Linked DNA regions of Homo sapiens. The protein of the gene in region 4 purifies or fractionates together with the protein of the main gene of each other region. This does not show direct contact. Each region holds a gene or a part of one and is shown on either strand. Other genes may lie near its edges.

Region 1 (3,500 bases), on a different chromosome or scaffold from region 4:
GTCGCACCACTGAACTCCAGCCTGGGTGACAGAGTGAGACTCTGTCTCAAAACAGGAAAGAAAAAAAAAAGTAATAGCACTTCATACTCCTTAGGATGGCTATTATTAAAAAAAAAAATCAGAAAACACAAAATGATAGAGGATGTGAGAAATTTGAACCCATGTGCACTGCTGGCAGAAATGAAAAATGGCACAGCTGCTACAAAAAATGGTATGATCGTTCCTCCAAAAATTAAACATAGAATTACCATATGATCCAGCAATTCTACTTCTGATTATATACCCCCGAGGAACTGAAAACAGGGTCTCAAAGTGGTATCTGTACACCATGTTTACAGCAGCATTATTCACAATAGCCAAACTGGAAATGGCCCAAATATCCATCGACAGATGAATGGATAAAAAATTTATAATTATATACATACAATGAAATATTCATTCTGACATATGCTATAACATGGATGAACCCTGAGGACATCATGCTAAGTGAAATAAGCCAGTCAGAAAAGGATAAATATTGTACGATTCCACTTATATGAAGTACCTAGGGTTGTCAAATTCATACAAACAGAAAGCAGAATGTTAGTTGCCAGGGGCTGGGGAAAGAAGGGAATGGGAGTTATTGTGGCTTTTTTTAGAAATTTTAAAATATTGGTTTTTTTTTAAAGAAATGGCACTGAGGACCATAAATTAAATTATACATAGTTTTGCATCAATAATAAATTTTCTGTATTAATTGTCTTGTGATTATGTAAGAGAATGGCCTTGTTCTGAGGAGATACATGCTGATATATTCAGGTGTGAAATGTCATGATATTTACATATATCAAATGCTTTAAACACCAAAATGTTCTACGTGTGTGTGAGTAGCTGCATGTATACATAGAGAGAAAGAAAGTGCTAAAGCAATTGGGACAAAATGTTAACAGCTGATAAATCTAAACAATTTTATGTTTGTTTCTTTTCCTTAAAAAAAAGCTTTGTTAATTAGTTTTTAGAAAAATGATATACACTTTTTTAAACCTGGGGGGGGGGGCAATAGTGCTAAGCATAAAAATTGAATTGCAAACACTGCATGTATACTACCATTATAATTATGTAAAAATGGTGTATACATATGCATGAAGTTTGGAAGGGAAAATGAAGAGTTTTACACGGCAAGGTAGAGTGATTATGGCAGTTTTTCTTTCCTTGTGATTTCTGCTGATTTGAAAGTTCACACAATTGGCCGGGTGCAGTGGCTCATGCTTGTAATCCCAGCACTTTGAAAGGCTGAGGCAGGGAGATTACCTTAGGTAAGGAGTTCAAGGCCAGCCTGGCCAACATGGCGAAACCCCGTCTCTAATTTATACAAAAATTAGCTGGGTGTGGTGGTGCACACCTGTAATCCCAGCTACTCGGGAGGCTGAGGCAGGAGAATCACTTGAACCTGGGAGGCAGAGGTTGCAGTGAGCTGAGATCACGCCACTGTACTCCAGCTTGGGTGACAGAGAGAGACTCTGTCTCAAAAAAAAAAAAAAAAAAAGAGTTCACACAATTGAAAAAGAAAAGGCCTTTACCTCTGGGCCCTGGGGGATTCTTCTGCATGTGCTTGCTGTTGCAGATGTCCTGGATGTTCTGGACCACGTCGGGGTTCAGCCCGTGCTCCCTCATGATGGCCAGCACCTTTCTGTCCATCAGGTTATGGGACCGGAGGCAGTTGGGAAAACGACAGTTCCCTCGGGTGAAGTGGTCACAGATGTGGAGTCTTGAACACGGTGGCTGCTGGTTACAAATCTGCTGCCGACCCTCTCCCTTATAACTTTTGCATATCTACAGAAGGGAGAAACAACAGCCAGAGTCAAAACACCTTCTTGTATTTGCCAAACATTCATTAAGGCAAGCTCACGTGTGCAAAAATCTCTGAAGCAAGCAGAGATATACCAAAGGGGGAAAAATACATGCATATTCTGCAGTCTTTGATGAGTCACATTCAGTTGGTGATTTACTTGGGGCAGAAGAGGTCCACAGACTAACCAAAAGATACTGATCAATTTGATAACCCTTGGAAGAATCAATGTAAGCTGGTTAGCTACAAACAGGACCCAAAGTGAGCCCTATATCATGAAGGAACCCAGCACAGGAAGGCTCATCTTTGGTTATCAACTCACTTTGCAATGAAAAGGACATGTGGGTCTTACCTGCAACTGTTTGGAAATCCAAAATTTAGACTCTGCTAGGCAGAATGACATTTCTCAAAAGATTGCCTAAAGAAGATAAGTTTTGTATTTCCATCTAAATAGATACATGTACGTGACTAGCTCTGAAGAGATGTAGTCCCTACTGGAAAGAGGGCAGAGAAAATACTGCAGCTGAGGCCACGCCATATGATACAGAACTGGAGGATGCTGGTTTTAAAATCTGAGGCCCTGGAAGCAGCTGTGTGACCTCAAGGGATCCCTTACCTACTCTTAGCCTCCGTTTCCTTTGCTGTAACAGGAGGAAAAGATTTGTTCTGTCTACAAAAACCAAGTTGTTAAGCAGACTAAATAGCAAAATTTGTAAATGCGTTATGCAAAATATAAAGTGTGATGCACGTGTTTGAACCATGAAATGAGGAAACCAATATAATTAGTAAGAAACCTGAATTTCAGACATTTTAATGAGTCACTTCGATAGACTCTGAGCAAACCAGATCAGTATGGTTCACTGTGATCTGTCTAGATGGCAAGCCATGATTCAAACCCCACTAGCAATGATTTTGCCACATGGATAATCGCTAAAACCTGATTCAAATAGATATATGTAACTGCTATCAAGTCTATGATCCAGATTCTAGACTCTAGACCAGCAATTCTCAAAGTGTGGTCCCCGGACCAGCACCATCAGCACTACCTGTAAATTTGTTAGAAATGCAAATCTTCAGGCACTTGCCCATATCTATAGAGTCTGAACCATCAGAGGTGGGGCCCAACAGTCTGTGTTTTAACAAACCTTCTGGATGATTCTGATGTCCGCTAAAGTTTGAGCTGTAGCAAAAAAGCACCATTAGCAACTTCACAAATGATGTTTTGGTAACATTCCTATTCCCACGCCGATATTAAGCAAGAATGCTCCTGCCTTCATTAGACCAGAACAAATGAAAGCATTTCTTCCTTTAAGAAGCACATTTCAATTGTACAAGTTTATATATCAGGCAGTCAGGTTTGCCTGATCTTTTTATGTTCTCACAAGTCAAAGCAAAATGAAAAAGTGTGAATACGTAGTTTTTTAGGGCTGAGTGTGTGGCTTCCCACTGGTTACCTCCAGTATTTTAACATTGTGACTAACACTTGCAGGTGCTTTTAAATGTTAGTTGAATGAATGCAAAGCAATCAATGAAGTGACTGGAAACATTTCACTGTGGTCCCCATCTCACACCCCCTAAACCACAAAGCTGTTTCTCTGCACTGCCTCTTACACTTAACTTCGCCCCTCTCTTCCTCCTCTTTCCTTCTGATAAAATCCAAATCAGCCAGGCA
Region 2 (3,500 bases), on a different chromosome or scaffold from region 4:
GGTGATGGTGATGGTGGTGGTGGTGATGGTGGTGGTGGTGATGGTGGTGGTGATGGTGATGGTGGTGGTGGTGATGGGTGGTGGTGATGGTGGTGGTGGTGATGGTGGTAGTGATGGTGGTGATGGTGATGGTGATGGTGATGGTGGTGGTGGTGATGGTGGTGGTGGTGATGGTGGTGGTGATGGTGATGGTGGTGGTGGTGGTGATGGTGGTGGTGATGGTGGTGGTGGTGGTGGTGATGGTGGTGGTGATGGTGGTGGTGGTGATGGTGGTGGTGATGGTGATGGTGGTGGTGGTGATGGTGGTGGTGATGGTGGTGGTGGTGATGGTGGTGGTGATGGTGGTGGTGGTGGTGATAGTGGTGATAGGAATGGCAGTGGTGGTGATGCCACGTGGTGGTAGTGGTACTGATGATGGTGGTGACAGTGTTGGTGGTGATGAGGGTAATGATAGTGATGGAGGGGGTGGTGATGGTGTTGTTAATGGTGATGGAGGTGGTTGTGTTGGTGGTGATGGTGTTGGTAATGGTGATGGAGGTGGTTGTGTTGGTGGTGGTGGTGTTGGTGTTGATGGTGATGATACTGATGATAGAGGTGGTAATGATGATGGTGGTGGTGGTGCTTATGGTGGTGATGGTGGTGACGGTAGAGAGTGCGTCCACAGCAGTCTGGTTGCTTTTGCTCAGGGTCCTTTGCGAGTGTCACAGTATAGATCTGTGCTCAGTGTCAATGAGAGTTACACTGGAGTCTTCAAAGCCATTGCAGGATTTATGTTAACTTAAAACACTTACAGACCAGCCTTTGTTTGCCATCTTTTCCAGGAAGGGGCCCAGACCTAGTCATGGAATGTAAATTTAATGATGCACTTCTCTCCTTTTTTAAATGAGTTACATCCACAAAGCATAGTCTGCTTTTTCATTTTAACTTCCTTTAGTTGATCAGAAATTTAAAGATGTTTGCAAAGCTGTTTGGGTGAAGCACCCTTACAGGCAGACTCTTGCTAATTTTGTTTTGCAGCCCCTCCCCTTTATCACGTTCGGCTGTCTCTGTACTCGTTGTCCGTTGTCTTTCTTATGATCTAATTAGGTCATCACAGGAACAAACGCAACTGCTGTAAGCAGGGTGTGGGCGGTGAAGGTCACTCACTTTTGGGCAGGACGCACTGAGCTGGTGGGAGGGCCCCTGTGGACACATGGGGCGTGCTGAGGACCCCGTTCAGTGGGGCCATTGGAGGGAAGGTAGGGGCAGGGCGTCACTTCATCACAAAACCAACAAATGAAAGCACTTGTGTATGGATTCAACTGAAAAGTACGATGTGTAAGGCACAAATGTCTCATTTTTGGTGATTGCTCATAGAACAAGTTTACTCTACTGTATCTTTACCTTGCTGTGGTCTCCCTTGGAAATAACAGAAGCGCCACTGAAACCTCACCCCTTTGGTGGGGGGCCAAAAAGGGAGGACATAGTCTCCCCACTGGGGGAGTGGACGTGAGATGATACAGGGGCAAGACCATTGTGGGAGCATGAAATAAGGGGTGAGGATAAGCCCTGGGCTTCTGGACACAGAGTTTCAAAGTCAGAGCTGAACAGAGGAGACTGGGAAGTGCGGGGGATGCCTGGGAGGGAAGGGCAGGAGTGGTGGAGGTGGTCCCAAGGCGTGTGTGGCTTCTGGGTTCCCACCTGCATCAGCAGCACCCTGACCCCCAGCTCATGCCCTGTGCTCCTCATAGGTGCTCGCGGTGAGGATCGATGACCTGGACCACCTCCCGGAGACCACCACCATCGACGCCTCCTCCATTGGCATCGTCCAGGTGAGCAGCATGGGGCCCCAGGGGCTCAGAAACTTTGGGGTAAGTGGACACCTGCAGAAGGGACCAGAGGGGCTTGGACAGGCCGGGAGGGAGCAGCTCTGGGCAAGCCTGTGGCCAGGTTACCCTGTTTTCTTGGCTTCTCTTCCCCTCAGAACCTCTTAGATCATCTCCTCGTTTCTGTAGTTTCTGTGACCTCAGTTTGTTGAATACTGGTGTATCTCACTTTGGAAAACAGATGTTTTCCAGAAAAAAATAGAAATTAGAACAATTGGCTGGGCGCGGTGGCTCACGCCTGTAATCCCAGCAATTTGGGAGGCCAAGGCGGGCAGATCACTTGAGGTCAGGAGTTCAAGACCAGCCTGGCCAACGTGGCAAAACCCTGTCTCTACTAAAAGTACAAAAATTAGCCAAATGTGGTAGTGCACGCCTGTAATCCCAGCTACTCAGGAGGCTGAGGCAGGAGAATTGCTTGAACCCAGGGGCGGAGGTTGCAATGAGCCGAGATTGTGCCACTGCGCTCCAGCCCAGGCAACAGAGCGAGACTGTGTCTGAAAAAAAAAAAAAAAAAAATCAGAACAATCATTAAAATGTTCTAAGCAAAATAAGTTTAAACATACCAATTAGATGAACTTAGTTTTTAAAGAAATTTTTAGTTAATACTAAACTTTCAGTTAGCAAAATTTTTTTTTATTTCAAAGAGAACGTGCCATGCTCTCAGTGGTCTAAGATCACATGTATGCCTCTCGTTCTGAAACAGCGCTTTAGAGTGCAGTCTTCATGAAGGGCACTGGGTCCGGCTGAGTGACGTACGGCGGCTCCAGCCCCAGCCCCAGAACCCACAGGCCATTTCTACCCTTGGCAAGTCACAGGCATGGGGGGGACGGGTCGTCCCACCATGACAGCGGTGTAGGCCCACGCTGGGTCTGTCTGCCACTGGGTTAGGATCAGGTTGTGTGGAATGGCACAGGAAGCCCAAGAGGAGTGGCAGGTGACCACTCACCGGCCACCACTGCCCCGCGGCCTCTGTGAGCCTGAGCGAGCCTGGTGAGCCGGCCCGGTTCAGAGGATGTGGTCACAGCCCAGCAGTGTCCTGGACACTTGCAGGGAATCGTGCGGGGAGGGGCCCACTGGGCTCACCACTGCAGCTGGGCCCTCGTTCCCTGTCCCTGCAGGTTTTGTGGTCAAATCTGTTTTAATTCAAAATTGTTTTTTATGGTGGATTCGTCTCAGCCCTGGGGAAGAGAGAGCCCTGATTTGAAAGCATTTTCAGCCTTGCTCTAGCAGCTCACCCGGGCAGAAACATTTCCCTTTGGAAATACCCAGTGGCTTAAAACGTTAAGTTTCTAAGAAGTGTTTACATTTTAGCATAAAATACAACTTTTAAAAATATGACTTGCATGTATTTTTTTTTTAAATCTGCAACTAAAGGAACTTGCCCCGATCCTTAGAAATACAAGACCCAGCTGTGGTCACTGTTTCTTGTGGCAGCTCGGTGGCCCACAAGCGTCCCCACTGATTGGAGAGTGTGTCCAGGGCAGTGCTGGGGCTGCCCTGGCCGCTGCCTGACGTGACCGACTAACCTGGTTCTCGGCTGAAACCGATTTTTCTGCAGCCTGAGCTGACTCTGGAGCAGGAGGATTTGGCCGAAGGGAAGCACGGGAAAGCTGCCAAGCGAAGTCACAAGAGAAA
Region 3 (3,500 bases), on a different chromosome or scaffold from region 4:
GTTGACATCAGTCCATAGATAGATGCCTCATTTTTTAAGAAGCCTGCAGGTTTTGCAGCTGCAGGTTTTCCACTTGGAAATTCCTGATGATTGGCTGACTTGAGACCTGCTGTTTGCTCTGAACCCCTGGTTTCTTCTACTACCTTGACTGTGCCTTACCCTTTGTGTAGTTTGGCTTTGGCTGTGTCATTCTGATAGGATCATGTTTCTAATATGGTGTCTTCAAATTTCCCTCCTCTCTATAACACTTTCAGTTTATCTTCCTTCCTCTTTGACCTCTCTCCCCAAACCAAAACAAAATTTTAAATAGCAGATAAAAAGTGTACTACCTTTACATATTTATTAAATATCTTTTATGTGTTTATTAAATTGGTTTAGTTGAGTTCAATATTCTTTCAGAATTTCTTAGTTGTGTGCTAGAGGCAAAGGAACTATGGAATGCCCCTATGGTTAGAAAGAGAAAAATGAGGGGAAAAGAGAAGGATAATTTTGTCTGGTATTCAAGACTGGTCTTTAATATGAAGCTGACATCTTCTTTTTAAGTTCTTGAAATATATAATATTGTAAGAAGAGAAATATATAATTTGTAGAAAAAAGATTCTACATGTAGAATATGCTAGAGCAGTACATGCAGGGAACTCTTTTTTTGACTCTTAGGGAGGAATAAATTGTAACTTTAATTGTATGGTAATGAAAAATGAGAATTAGCTTCATGTGATGTTTGCTGTCATTATCTTTCTAAATTTGGGTTTGGTCATTTAACTTAGGCTTTTTTTTTTCTCCTTAAAACAACTTTAATTGCAATTAGTTTAAGCTCTGACTGAATGGTGATGCTTCAGTCCTGATTCTGAAGGCAAAGCGTAGGGTGGACGTGATTTTTCTGAGGTACATAGGAGAGTGCCATACCTATGATGGCTTTTTCTTTTTTTGTTGTTATATAGCAGTTATAGGAAATTTAAAATGGGACTTTTTTTTATAAGAAAAAAGTAGATTTGTTTTCCTTACATTCATATTCAAAGCATGTCATCTGGTGTTACGTTCCCAAGACAACAGCCATTTATATTGGTCTGAGTTTCTCAGTGGGGGAAAGACCGTATCTTTCATATTTCCAATGAGTAACAGTGTACCTGGTATTTAATGTGTGCTCAATAAGTGTTTGTTAGATTAAACTAAAAGATTCCCCAAGTAGGCACTGTCCTAAGATAATTGTATTCTACTTAAGTTTATTGTGGTATGTGGCAGTGCTCTATAATTAACATATATATATATTTAACCAGCCCTTACAGGTGATAGTTTTAGGATAGAACTTTCAATTTCTTAAGTTTTCTTTGTATCTTTGAATCCTTACGTTAAGGATGATCAGTAAGAAATTTCCTTCAGGAGTTGTGATGAGGAACGTACATTTATTTACTTGCAGTGTTTTGATGATATTGTAGTTAAGTGGTCATCCTAAAGAAGATTGAGTTTATATTTGAGCCAATAGTAAGCAAGCAGTATACCATTTAAGAAGCATTCTTGTCATCACTTAAAATGGGCATTGACCAAAATGTCAGTGCATTAAGTAAGAAAATGAAACCTTGTCTTTGTCTAGCATAGAAGAGTTAGAATTAATATTGTCATATTGTAATGTGACTGCCATCCAACCTAATGTAAAATTGAATACTGATTCCTTTTGAAAAAATATTTTAAACATTTTCACCAGTACATGCAATGCACTTGCCATTAAAGAATAACACAAGATAAACCCTTGATGAAGTTTAAGTAATTTTTATTGAGCACCTATTAGGGGTGAAAATCTGGAATATACAGTCATTAATCTTTAGCTATCAAAAGCCTTTCCTTTGGAGGGCTGGATGTTTGAAAGGTACTGATCTATGTAAGCAGTAAGTGGTGATTTCTAAGATAATTTAAAACCCTAAGGCAAGAAAGAGAGCAATATAGGAAAAGAAGAAGGAAGTCAGCATGGCTCTCTGTTTCTCAGCATCAAGAGCTGTGGAGGAACTTTATGTTGCTGTCTGGATGACCATGTCTGTTGTCTCAGGTGACAGGAAGTTTTAGCTATTGACAGAGGCACTTAGAGTTGGCTGTGTCCAATTGTAAGTGAGCAGAGCAATCAGAAAATGGTAGCTGACTTTGAAGAAAGCCATTCTGTCTCCATGGGAAAAAATAAAAAAATCTTAAGTGGTGTCTGAAACTAAGGGAAAAACTTTTATTATCTCTGTTTGTGGACTGAGACACACCTTATTTTTCTCATTTGTTAACTATGTAAGTGGAATTAAAAAAGTTTTAAAGTCTCATTTTTGACTCCTCAGTTAACTTCACATAGATTTAAAAAATCTAATTTTTAGAGAAGGTTTTTTTAATACATAGAGCTCTGTAGTATTTCATTTAGCAAATATCAGTCATGCATTATCCTGAGAGCTGGGGTAGCGGTGAGCATCAAGAATATCTTCTCTGTTCTAATCTTCCAGTTTAATGGCGATATGGAAAAGAAATTAATTACAAAACAGTGGATAAGCTAGTATAGATATCTAGGGTGCTATGAGAGTGTAGGTGAAGGATTTTTAACAAACAACAACAAAAAACAAGAGGTTGATTATTGAAGGCTTCTTGGAGGAAGTGACATCTATACTGGGATCTGAAGGATTATTAGAAGTGAGTCAGATCAGGAAAGTGGGAGAATGTTATAGTCAGAGAGGAAAAAACATAGGTGAAGGCCTGAAAAGTGAGGGAAAGAATACATTTGGTGTATCTGTGGACCTGAAAGAAATCTGGACTGCTTGGATCAACGATACACACACTTGCGCTCTCTCTCCCTCTCTCTCTCTCTCTCTCTCTGTGTGTGTGTGGGGGGGGTGGGGGGGTGGGGGGGTGGCAAGGGTAAGGGGAAGCATTTGTGATTGATAATTAAGATTGATTAGTTAAGGTTAGAGGCAAATACTTTTTTTTGGATGTTTATTGAGAATAAATATGCAGTCCCTACTGAATATAACTTAACTGTATAATTAGGACTAATTAAGAAATTGATAGTGTCTTTATTTTTCTGTGATTGAGAAGCTGGTAGGCAAAGTGATGTGTCTGATTTAGGGATGCAGTCTTATATTTTACACTTGACTATTTTTTATGTATAACCTCATGTTTACAGACTGATTATTTTATGCTTTAAATCTGCAGCCATGTACATGTATCCTATTTAAATCTTAAGTTGAATTCTTAAGTTAAACCGAGTTCACATTATTTTGGTGTTCCTCTTCAATCTTTTTTGACTATCCTTAAAGGCAGAATTGAATCTGTATTATGGGTCTAGCAGGTTTTGTAGTTTAGAATCAGTGTGCAAAAGTTTCCTGTTTTCTTCCCACTGCTACTATGCTCACCTACATTTCCTGAGAAATATATATAGGTCAATTAGGCTTAGCCAAAGCATTTTTTAAAATCAGTCTACCTCTCATAGTTTGTCACTCACTTATGAAGTTAACTGTGAACTAAATATATTAGCAGTC
Region 4 (3,500 bases):
AAGACAATCCAGTCTCTTCAAAGGAAAAATACCCCACTCATAGCCCTTGCTAAAGGAGCATCCCTTGGGCAGCCAGGTTTTGTACCATGTGACCCTGTGTCTTATTCCCGGAGCCACACTGATTAGGCCACAGGTGGGTAATGCACACATGACTAGTAGATTGAGATGTGATCTGGCTTGAAAAGATGACATCCTTCCTTGGGAATGTGAACTAAGAAATGTCAGGACAAGTGGGTGACGAGCTGAAAGGATATCATGAAAGGACGTCCTGAAGCAGCCACAAGGATCGGGGAACCAAAGTTACCAGCAGCAGAACCCATGGGCACATGGGAGGTACAAGGTAGAGAAAAGGTCATAATAGACCACGGGACCAGAGGCAGGCAGGGGGAAGCCCAGCGCAGTCCCATCAGCGGTGAAACACTGACGCAAAGACCTAAGAATTCCTGGGGAAGCCCTCACCTCGCCTAGCACCACCCATGGGCTCCAATTTCCATGCAAACCATCCTTATTTATTCATAGATTGCCATAATACTCTAACTCTCTTGGGCTCTGTGCAAGATCTTATCACTAATTCCCTTTACTGGGATTAGCTAAGTCTCAGTTTTTCACAATCAAGAGTCTAATTAAAACAACAGACCAGGCACGGTGGCACATGTCTGTAATCCCAGCACTTTGGGAAGCCGAGGTGGAAGGATCACTTGAGGCCAGGAGTTCTCAAGACCAGCCTGGGCAACATAGCAAGACCTCTGTCTCTATAAAAATAAAAAAATATAAAAATAAAACAAGAGCATTAAATCCCACATTTCTGGGATTTATGGTGGCTGGGAGATGGTGTGGTCCTGGTGAGGAGGAGGAAAAGGCATATTTGCGGTGCACTGACCATTCTCCAACAGTCAAGGGGATATGGTCACTGCTTCTTGTGACTCATTCATTCATCCTTCTATTCAACCAGCATTTATTCAGCACCAACTACTTACATCAAGCACAGAAAAACTGTCAGACACTGTCTTTGTCCTCCAGAAGCTATAGCTTAGCACAGAGAACAAACAAGTAAATGAGATAATATTTCACTCCAGGATGCATTAAGAGCAGCAAAGCGATATGCACAGCAATCCATGAGAGCACCTCAGAGGCTCACCTAACCCAGCAGGGAGGGATGGAAGGAGGAACTCTGCAGCTTTCTTGACAGGAGTGGGATCTAAGCTAAGTTTTCATTTGTGGGAGGAGCTAGAACATTCTAAATCTTGAGAAAAAAACCTCAAGTTTTTCAAAAAGAAGGAGGCAGGTCTTTACATGGAAAGGATTAACAACAAAAATTAGCTTAGAATGGTAGAAGTCTAGGCTGTGAGCAGTGCTGTGGGGAAGATGAGGGAAAAGAGGTAGGCAGAGGCCAGTTTCATCGAGGAGAGCTTTGCATGGCCCTTTCTCCACAGGCATGGAGATTACTGAAGGATTTGGGTGTGGACATGTCATCACATCCGTGCTTTAAAAAATCACTGTGACTTATAGCAAGGGCCTTGAAACATACTGTTTGACCCAGCAATTCTCTCCTAGGAATTTATACTAGGAAATAAGTAATGATATATGATATATACACAGCTTTTTATGACTCATCATTAACACTAACCCTTATTGACAGCTATGTTCCAGGGCACTTCCTAAGCACTTTATATGTATTATCTCATTTAATCTTTTCAATAAGGCAGCAAAAATTTGAAATACCTTAAACATCTGGAGACTTGGTTAAATAATTTATGGCCCAGTCCATACATATAATGGAACACTATTAAACATCATCTTGGCCTGGCACGGTGGCTCACGCCTGTAATCCCAGCACTTTGGGAGGCCAAGACATGCGGATCATGAGGTCAAGAGATGGAGACCATCCTGGCCAAAATGGTGAAACCCAGTCTCTACTAACAATACAAAAAAATTAGCTGGGCGTGGTGGCGTGTGCCTTTAGTCCCAGCTACTTGGGAGGCTGAGGCAGGAGAATTGGTTGACCCTGGGAGGCGGAGGTTGCAGTGAGCCAAGATCGTGCCACTGCACTCCAGCCTGGCGACAGAGCAAGACTCCATCTCAAACAAACCAAACCAAAACAAAAAAACCCATCATCTTAATAACAACTAGCATTATTGAGTATTTTCTATTTGCCAGGTACTGTGCTAAGTGCTTTTTATAAGGCTAATTTAACTCCATCCTCATAAATCAATAAGGTAGGCACTATTTTACAGATTAGGAAATTAAGGCTTTGTAAGAATCTGAGGTAGAACTTGAAACCATGTCTGCCTGGGAGGTTTTAACTTTCATGCTACCATGATTTATTTTCATGAAAAGATAGCCACATCAATTACAGACCAATAGACTAGAACAGAAAATCCCAAAACATATCCAAACATTAGGGAAGCCTGATGTATGACTGAGGTGGCATTACAAGTCACTGGGGAGAAGATCACTAGTGATAAACTGCAAACAACTTCAATGTCCATTAATCAGATAAAGGATTTGTGAATATATATACATTATCTCATATATGAATATTATATATGAATATGTGTATTATACATTATATATGAATATTATACATTATCTCATGTTAACAGAGATAAATTACAAAAACATAATTACTGGGCAAAAAATAAGTTATAGAATGACTTACTGTATAATATTTACATAAAATTTAAAAACAGGTAAATAATACCTACAAAAATCTATTAACACATGGGACAATAAGCAGCAAATGTGTACATATCTGAGAAGAAAGGGAAATAAGACTGGGGAAGGATACCCAGGATACTTCAGCTTTATCTGTAATGCTTTGTTTCTTACAAAAAAAAAAAAAATCAACAACTGAAAAAAAACCACAAAGAACGGCCAGGTGCAGTGGCTCACACCTGTAATCCCAGCACTTTGGGAGACCGAGGCGTGTGGATCACTTGAGGTTAGGAGTTCAAGACCAGCTTGGCCAACATGGTGAAATCCCGTCTCTACTAAAAATACAAAAATTAGCCAGGCATGATGGCACGTGGCTGTAGTGCCAGCTACCCTGGAGGCTGAGGCAGGAGAATTGCTTGAACCCAGAAGGCAGAGGTTGCAGTGAGCTGAGCTCACGCCACTGCACTCCAGCCTGGGTGACAGAGTGAGACTCCATCTAAAAAAAAAAAAAAAAACCACAAAGAAATTCAAAACACTTGAAGAATGCACACTTTTAAAATTACATATTTGTACATGCACATTATGTATAGAAAAAGGAAAAACACATAATAAAATGTAAATGAAATTTGAGTGGTGAGTTATAAGTTATTTTTATTTTCTTACCATTCTTCATATATTTTTTTCAACAAGAGTAAGTCCTTATTTTGGTGTACAGAAAAAAATAACAGGAAGGAAAGAAGGGTGGTGTGCAGAAAAGTCACAGCAGACCTGAGACTGCTATTCCTAGAAAGTTCTGCTTGCATGCTGGCCCTTCGCTGGCAGCTGGAAACTTCGATTTTGAGAGG

Evidence for each region. Proteins that work in one complex are often made in the same cells at the same time.
Region 1: the proteins of ZNF2 (region 4) and ZC3HAV1 purify together in Homo sapiens (affinity purification with mass spectrometry; 2 studies listed by BioGRID and IntAct, with this or other methods). This does not show direct contact.
Region 2: the proteins of ZNF2 (region 4) and PRDM15 purify together in Homo sapiens (affinity purification with mass spectrometry; 2 studies listed by BioGRID and IntAct, with this or other methods). This does not show direct contact.
Region 3: the proteins of ZNF2 (region 4) and ZNF800 purify together in Homo sapiens (affinity purification with mass spectrometry; 2 studies listed by BioGRID and IntAct, with this or other methods). This does not show direct contact.

Annotation. Positions count from the first base shown.
Region 1 is NC_000007.14:139,082,221-139,085,720, forward strand, and holds part of ZC3HAV1 (zinc finger CCCH-type antiviral protein 1), read right to left. Parts: intron 1,813-3,500; coding exon 1,560-1,812; intron 1-1,559.
Region 2 is NC_000021.9:41,802,845-41,806,344, reverse strand, and holds part of PRDM15 (PR domain zinc finger protein 15), read left to right. Parts: intron 1-1,730; coding exon 1,731-1,811; intron 1,812-3,423; coding exon 3,424-3,500. UniProt on the Homo sapiens protein: Sequence-specific DNA-binding transcriptional regulator. Plays a role as a molecular node in a transcriptional network regulating embryonic development and cell fate decision.
Region 3 is NC_000007.14:127,379,209-127,382,708, reverse strand, and holds part of ZNF800 (zinc finger protein 800), read left to right. Parts: intron 1-3,500. UniProt on the Homo sapiens protein: May be involved in transcriptional regulation.
Region 4 is NC_000002.12:95,172,309-95,175,808, reverse strand, and holds part of ZNF2 (zinc finger protein 2), read right to left. Parts: intron 1-3,500. UniProt on the Homo sapiens protein: May be involved in transcriptional regulation.